Regions from separate parts of the Homo sapiens genome. Here region 1 is linked to region 2. The links come from fine-mapping of genetic effects on gene expression. A gene starts in region 2. The other region holds a variant in brackets. All regions are shown on one strand. Distances are between the middles of the regions. Region 1 overlaps BRF1 (BRF1 general transcription factor IIIB subunit). Region 2 holds the start of BTBD6 (BTB domain containing 6).

Region 1 (2,900 bases), 46 kb after region 2:
ACCCCTTCCCAGGCACAGACCCTTCCCAGGAGCAACCCTTTCCCAGGCCCACACCCCTTCCCCAGGCCCACATCCCCTCCCCAGGTCCAGACCCCTTCCCAAGCCCAGGCCCCTTCCCCAGGCCACTGCGGAGGAGCTGGTTTTGTAGTGATTACAATTTGGTTACGGAAAACAGGACGTGTGTCACGCTGCAGGCTAACCAGCAGCTTCCTCCCTCACCCAGATGGCAACGGGACAGAATTCACCCGTTTCCTAAGAGCAGGCACCTTCAGCCACAACTTAGGGTTCTGGGGGTCATGGAGCAGAGGCAGAAGCCTGGAGCCTTCCACCCTCAGGACTAGAGCCCCGCCAGGAGGCCAGGCGCATGCTCAGAACCCCAGGCCGCAGGGAGAGGCTGGCCGGTCACATCCTTCTCTGAGGCAGAGGGAGCTTCCCAGCAGGCGAGGGCAACTCCACCACCCATGTCCCCCTCCAGGGCCAGCGCCAGGTGACATGCAGCCATGTCACAAATTAGGTCCGGCTGCATCGTGACCCCAAACGGAAAACAGCAGCACTCACGGACACCCCAGCTTCGAAGTTCTAACTGTGAAGCCACTGAAAGTTGTGATTACGGGAAACGCTCCCCACCCCCACAAGTTCTGGTGACACTGAGGTGTGCTGCTCCTTGCACAGGACGAGGAGGGACCCCTGCAAGCAGGAGCCCAGGATGTCTGGTGTGTGGGCGCCATCACCATCACCTGCTGGCAGAGGGAAGCCTCAGGGCACACACAGTGCAGGACACTGATGTGGGCTCACAGGGAAGCCCCGCCTTGCCTCAGTGGAGCAGACGGCCTCCTCAGGGCACTGCCAACGGCCCCCAACTCCACCGTCTGCCTGGCCCCTCCAGCCACGCTGAGCCTCAGTCCTCACCCACCCTTCTCTCTGCACAGTCTCTGCTCGGGTGCCCCGGGACGCTGGAGCACCAGTGTGGTTTCCCCCGTGGGGCCTGGCTTCCAAGGTCAGGACCCTCTGGGGACTCTCCTGAGGCCTCTGGTCACCTGCCCTGATGCCTTAGTTAAATATTCCAGAGTAAACTGCGAAGCTGTATCAGGCTTAGTTCTCAATTAATAGGCAAAACACCTAGGAAAGACAGTGGCCTTGGGACTAGAAAACGACAGCTCAGAGAGAAAGCTCAGCTTTCAAGATGAAGCTGGAGGAAGGGGCGGCTGGGGCCTACTTGTGTGCCAGGGAAACTGAGAAGCCACCAAGGTTTCCAGCCCCCTGTGATCACCACTGTGACGAGGGAGGAAGGATGCCAAGTGGGCACCTAGAGAGCCTGCCTGGGAGACAGAGGGGCTGCCCAGAGCAACAGATCCCCTCTCT[C/G]CTCCCCACTCTCGGCCCAGGCACCACCTGCGCCGGTCCCCAGGGGCTAAGAACCCGCCGCCTCGCAGCACTTCCCCCAGGACCACCACAGTTGGTTGCTGGGCCTGCGCCTCCCTCCAGAGAGTGTGCCTGGGCTCAGAGGCGTCTTGGGGCCACCTGACAGCGCTGGCTCTGAGCTTGTTCTGACAGCACCCGGGTGACAGACTTCCAGCTCTGCACTGCTCCACACCACCATCCTCCCCCGGCAGGGCACAGTGAGGGCAGTGCGCTGTCACCAGGCCCGGATGCACTTAACACTGTGCCTGCCCGGGAAACCCTGCGTCTGCTGCCATGACAACTTGCTTTCATTACTGTTGTTATCATCCCAACAGACATCCAAGTCTTGGCAACTGTGACACAGCTGCAAACTCTGTGCCCAGCAGTCCTAGGAAGATACCCAGGGAGTATGAGCATGGAAGACGATGGGGAGGGAAGAGCAGGAGAGAAAACTCAATGAAGCCCAAGCCAGTTCTTAGAAAAGATCAAAAACACGGATCAACTTCTAGCAAGAGAGACAAAGGGAAAAAAAGACACAAAACACCAACATCTGAAAGGAAAAAGGAGGCCACTGTGGACCCCGCAGATATCAAAAGGATAAGGGAATGCTTCGAACAACTCTCTGGGCAAATTCAACAACTAGGTCAAGTGGACCAATTCCTCAACACAAGCGGCTAATTCACCCCAGGTGAAACACAGCATCTTAAATATAACTAGAACCTCAGTGATGAAAGAAGCCGAAACCACAGTGCAGAATCTTCTGAGAAAGAAAGCTTTGGGACCAGATGGCTACGCTGGTGAATTCTACCAAACATTTCAGAAAGAAAGAACACCAACTCTACATAATGTCTTCCAGAAAATAGAAGAGGAAACGTTTCCCAACCCATTCCATAAGGAGCAGAACCCTGATACCCAAGACAAGGACGTTACAGGAAAAACTACAGGCCAATATCCCACGCAAGCATCAGCAGGAACCCTCAACAGAACATCCGGCGCTGAGCAAAGCAGCTCATGCCGCTAATCCCAGCACTCTGGGAGGCCAAGGTGGGAGGATGCCTTGAGGTCAGAAGTTCGAGACCAGCCTGAGCAGCAAAGCAAGACCACATCTCTACAAAAAAAAAAAAAAAAAAAAAAAAATTGGCGTTGGCTCACACCTGTCATCCTAGAACTTTGAGAGGCCAAGACGGGAGAATTACTTGAGCCCAGGAGTTCCAGACGAGCCTGGTCAACATGGCAAAACCCCATCTCTACAAGAAAAATACAAAAATTAGCTGGGTATAGTAGGGCGCACCTGTAGTACCAGCAACTCAGGAGGCTGAGCTGGGAGGGTCACTGGAGCCCAGGGGGTTACGACTGCAGTAAGCCATGACCACTGCACTCCAGCCAGGGTGACTGAGCAAGACCCTAGACCCTGTCTCCCCAACCAAAAAAAAATTTTTTTAATTAGCTGGGCATGGTAGTGCATGCCCGTAGTCCTAGCTACTCTGGAGTCTCAGGTGGAA
Region 2 (2,900 bases):
CTTTCTCTCGGAACTTTCCGGACTCTCATGCATATGCTACAGCTTTCCAAACGGCTTGGCCGTGCGGAGTTACGCACCCACCTGCAGCAGGTGATCTCCAGCTGCTCTGCATTCCACCAACACTACGTGACAAGTCTCAAGTTCAGCCGCCTGGGGGCTCGGGCACCCCATTCCTGGGAGAAATGATGATTTGTGCACTCTGGGCCATTGCATGGTGTCTGTTCACGTCCTTTGCCCGTTTTTTAAAAAACTGGGTTGTCAGCCTTTTCCTTCCTGACTTGTAGTTGCTCCTCCATCCTGGAGAGTCCTTTGTTGAAAATACCGCAAATATCTTCTGAAGAGGACTCTCCCAGGGAACATTCACTACAACTGTAACGACCACAGAGACACAGAGCTCCTGTTCACTGTTTAGCCCAGGACTGCGGTGACAGGTGCACCCATGACCCGAGATGCTGGCTGCGTCCTGTGGGGTTTCCTGCATATGGAAGTTTTAAAAGTCTAAAGCCTGGCGGTCCAGGAGGTTGCGTGTGTGTCCTCGGGGAGGAACCCTCCTGACAGCCAGGCCTCTGGAGCTTCGTCTGCACGCGAGCTTGGCATGCACCAGCTGTGCGGCCCAGGCCAGGTGACACGGCCTCTGAAGTCTGGTCTCCTCATCAGCAAAGCCAGTGCCCCATGCCACGCACCTCCCAGGATTAGCCCCAGGCCGGGAGGCTAGAGGCCCCACAAGGAGCGAGCCTGCGACTGCGATCCACAGGCAGAGCCACAGAGGCAGGGCGCGCCCTGGGGCCCAAGCTCCAGGGCTGCAGGCCCAGGGCCAGATCCTGACTTGCCCACCCGCCGGCTGTGTGACCTTCAGCGCGCGACTAACCTCTCTGTGCCTATTTCCTCGAGGAAAATGCCGGGAAATAGCAGCGCCTGCCCCTGTAAAGCCCTCAGAGCAGAGTGGACCGCGCTCTCTGCAAGCGCTGGCTGCTGGCGTCCGTAGCAAGCTAAATCGCGAAGCATCTGAACGAACGAGGAAGCCCAACGACCATCCCACAGGCCGCGGCCAGAGGCAGACTCCGGAATGCAAATGGCCAAACAAGCAGGTCCACCTGCGTTCCTAACCAAAAGATCGCTAACTGAAGAACGGGCGCAAGCACCTGCGCATGGCACTGCGGGTCTGGGGGCGGCCGCCTGCCAGCGCCGGGAGCCGCCTTCCACGGCTACCTCTGCACAGCGCGCGGCTCGCGCCGGTTGCTGGGCAGAAGCTCGAGCAGCTTCGAGGATGTCGGGCCTGGGGGCGGGGCCGCGAGGCAGCGACGTCGCGCGGGGCGCGGCCCTGACGCAGCGTGACGCACCGGCGCCGCGGCGGGTACGGGCTCGGGCGGGCGGGCGGGCGGGACGGCGCCCCCCGCGGCCGGGCCTGGCCGGGCTGCGCTAGGCTGGGCTCGGGCAGGGTCGCAGGGGCGGGGGTGGCAGGGGAGCGGGTGGCAGCCCCGCGGGTCACAGCGCCGCCGCCGCCCATGCTGCTGCCCCTAGCCTGCCTGCACGGCCGCGTCGCTCAGTGCCTGACCTCCTTGCTTTTGCTTGCAGAGCCGCTCCCGAGGCCCCGGCGCGGCGCGAGGGCGCGGGGCGCGGCGTCCACAGGCGCCGAGGCTGCCCCCGCCGCCCCGCCCGCGAAGATGGCGGCGGAACTCTACGCTCCCGCCAGCGCCGCGGCCGCGGACCTAGCCAACAGCAACGCCGGCGCCGCCGTGGGCAGGAAGGCCGGGCCGCGCAGCCCGCCCAGCGCCCCCGCGCCAGCGCCGCCGCCGCCCGCGCCCGCGCCGCCCACACTCGGCAACAACCACCAGGAGAGCCCCGGCTGGCGGTGCTGCCGCCCCACGCTGCGCGAGAGGTGAGCCCGTGCCCCGCGGCCCCCGCGCCCGCGCGCGCCCACGCCCCCAGCCCGTGCCTCTACCTTTGCAGGAACGCGCTCATGTTCAACAACGAGCTCATGGCCGACGTGCACTTCGTCGTGGGGCCCCCGGGGGCGACCAGGACGGTGCCCGCCCACAAGGTGGGTAGCGGCGGCCCCTCTCGGAACGCGTGCCCCGTCCGCCCCGTCCGCCGTGTGGCTGACACGCAGCCTGCGGGAGAGCCAGGCTCACGGCGGCGCTTTCTCCTCCCAGTACGTCTTGGCTGTCGGCAGCTCCGTCTTCTATGCCATGTTCTACGGAGACCTGGCGGAAGTCAAATCTGAAATTCACATTCCAGACGTGGAGCCCGCAGCCTTTCTGATCCTCTTAAAGTAAGTCCACTCTACTGGGGAGGGACGGGTGGGTCCGTTTTAGGCGGCCTCCGGAGGCTTCTGAAGGGAAGCACACAGGAGCTGATGGACTCCTCTCCCAGGCCCAGCCCCGCGATGGGTGCTTGGGAGCCAGCCCCTGACGCGGGCCCTGCCTCGCCTAGGTACATGTACAGTGATGAGATCGATCTGGAAGCCGACACGGTGCTGGCCACTCTGTACGCTGCTAAGAAGTACATCGTCCCAGCATTGGCAAAAGCCTGTGTCAACTTTCTGGAGACAAGTTTGGAAGCCAAGAACGCCTGCGTCCTGCTGTCCCAGAGCCGGCTGTTTGAGGAGCCCGAGCTGACGCAGCGCTGCTGGGAGGTCATTGACGCACAGGCCGAGATGGCCCTACGGTCCGAAGGCTTCTGTGAGATAGACCGGCAGACGCTGGAGATCATTGTCACTCGGGAGGCCCTCAACACCAAAGAGGCGGTGGTCTTCGAGGCCGTCCTGAACTGGGCCGAGGCGGAGTGCAAGAGGCAGGGGCTGCCAATCACCCCACGAAACAAGAGGCATGTTCTGGGGCGAGCCCTCTATCTGGTCCGAATTCCAACCATGACCCTAGAGGAGTTTGCCAACGGCGCTG

Evidence for each region.
Region 1: its variant is fine-mapped to the expression of BTBD6 in whole blood (TOPMed, PIP above 0.99).

Annotation. Positions count from the first base shown.
Region 1 is chr14:105,292,794-105,295,693 of GRCh38, forward strand. The region is part of intron 1 of BRF1 (BRF1 general transcription factor IIIB subunit); the gene reads right to left. Among named protein-coding and RNA genes, the nearest start is that of BRF1, 6.8 kb to the right of the region's middle. RefSeq lists enhancers at 280-429, 580-699, 1,340-1,469. The variant C/G (reference allele first, on the strand shown) is at 1,363.
Region 2 is chr14:105,247,207-105,250,106 of GRCh38, forward strand. BTBD6 (BTB domain containing 6) reads left to right here and starts at 1,327. Exons shown (of 4, transcript NM_001387567.1): 1 at 1,327-1,879; 2 at 1,951-2,041; 3 at 2,154-2,272; 4 at 2,434-2,900. The coding sequence starts at 1,506. The region is part of intron 5 of BRF1 (BRF1 general transcription factor IIIB subunit); the gene reads right to left. RefSeq lists enhancers at 953-1,743, 2,535-2,900 and silencers at 1,119-1,678, 1,879-1,928.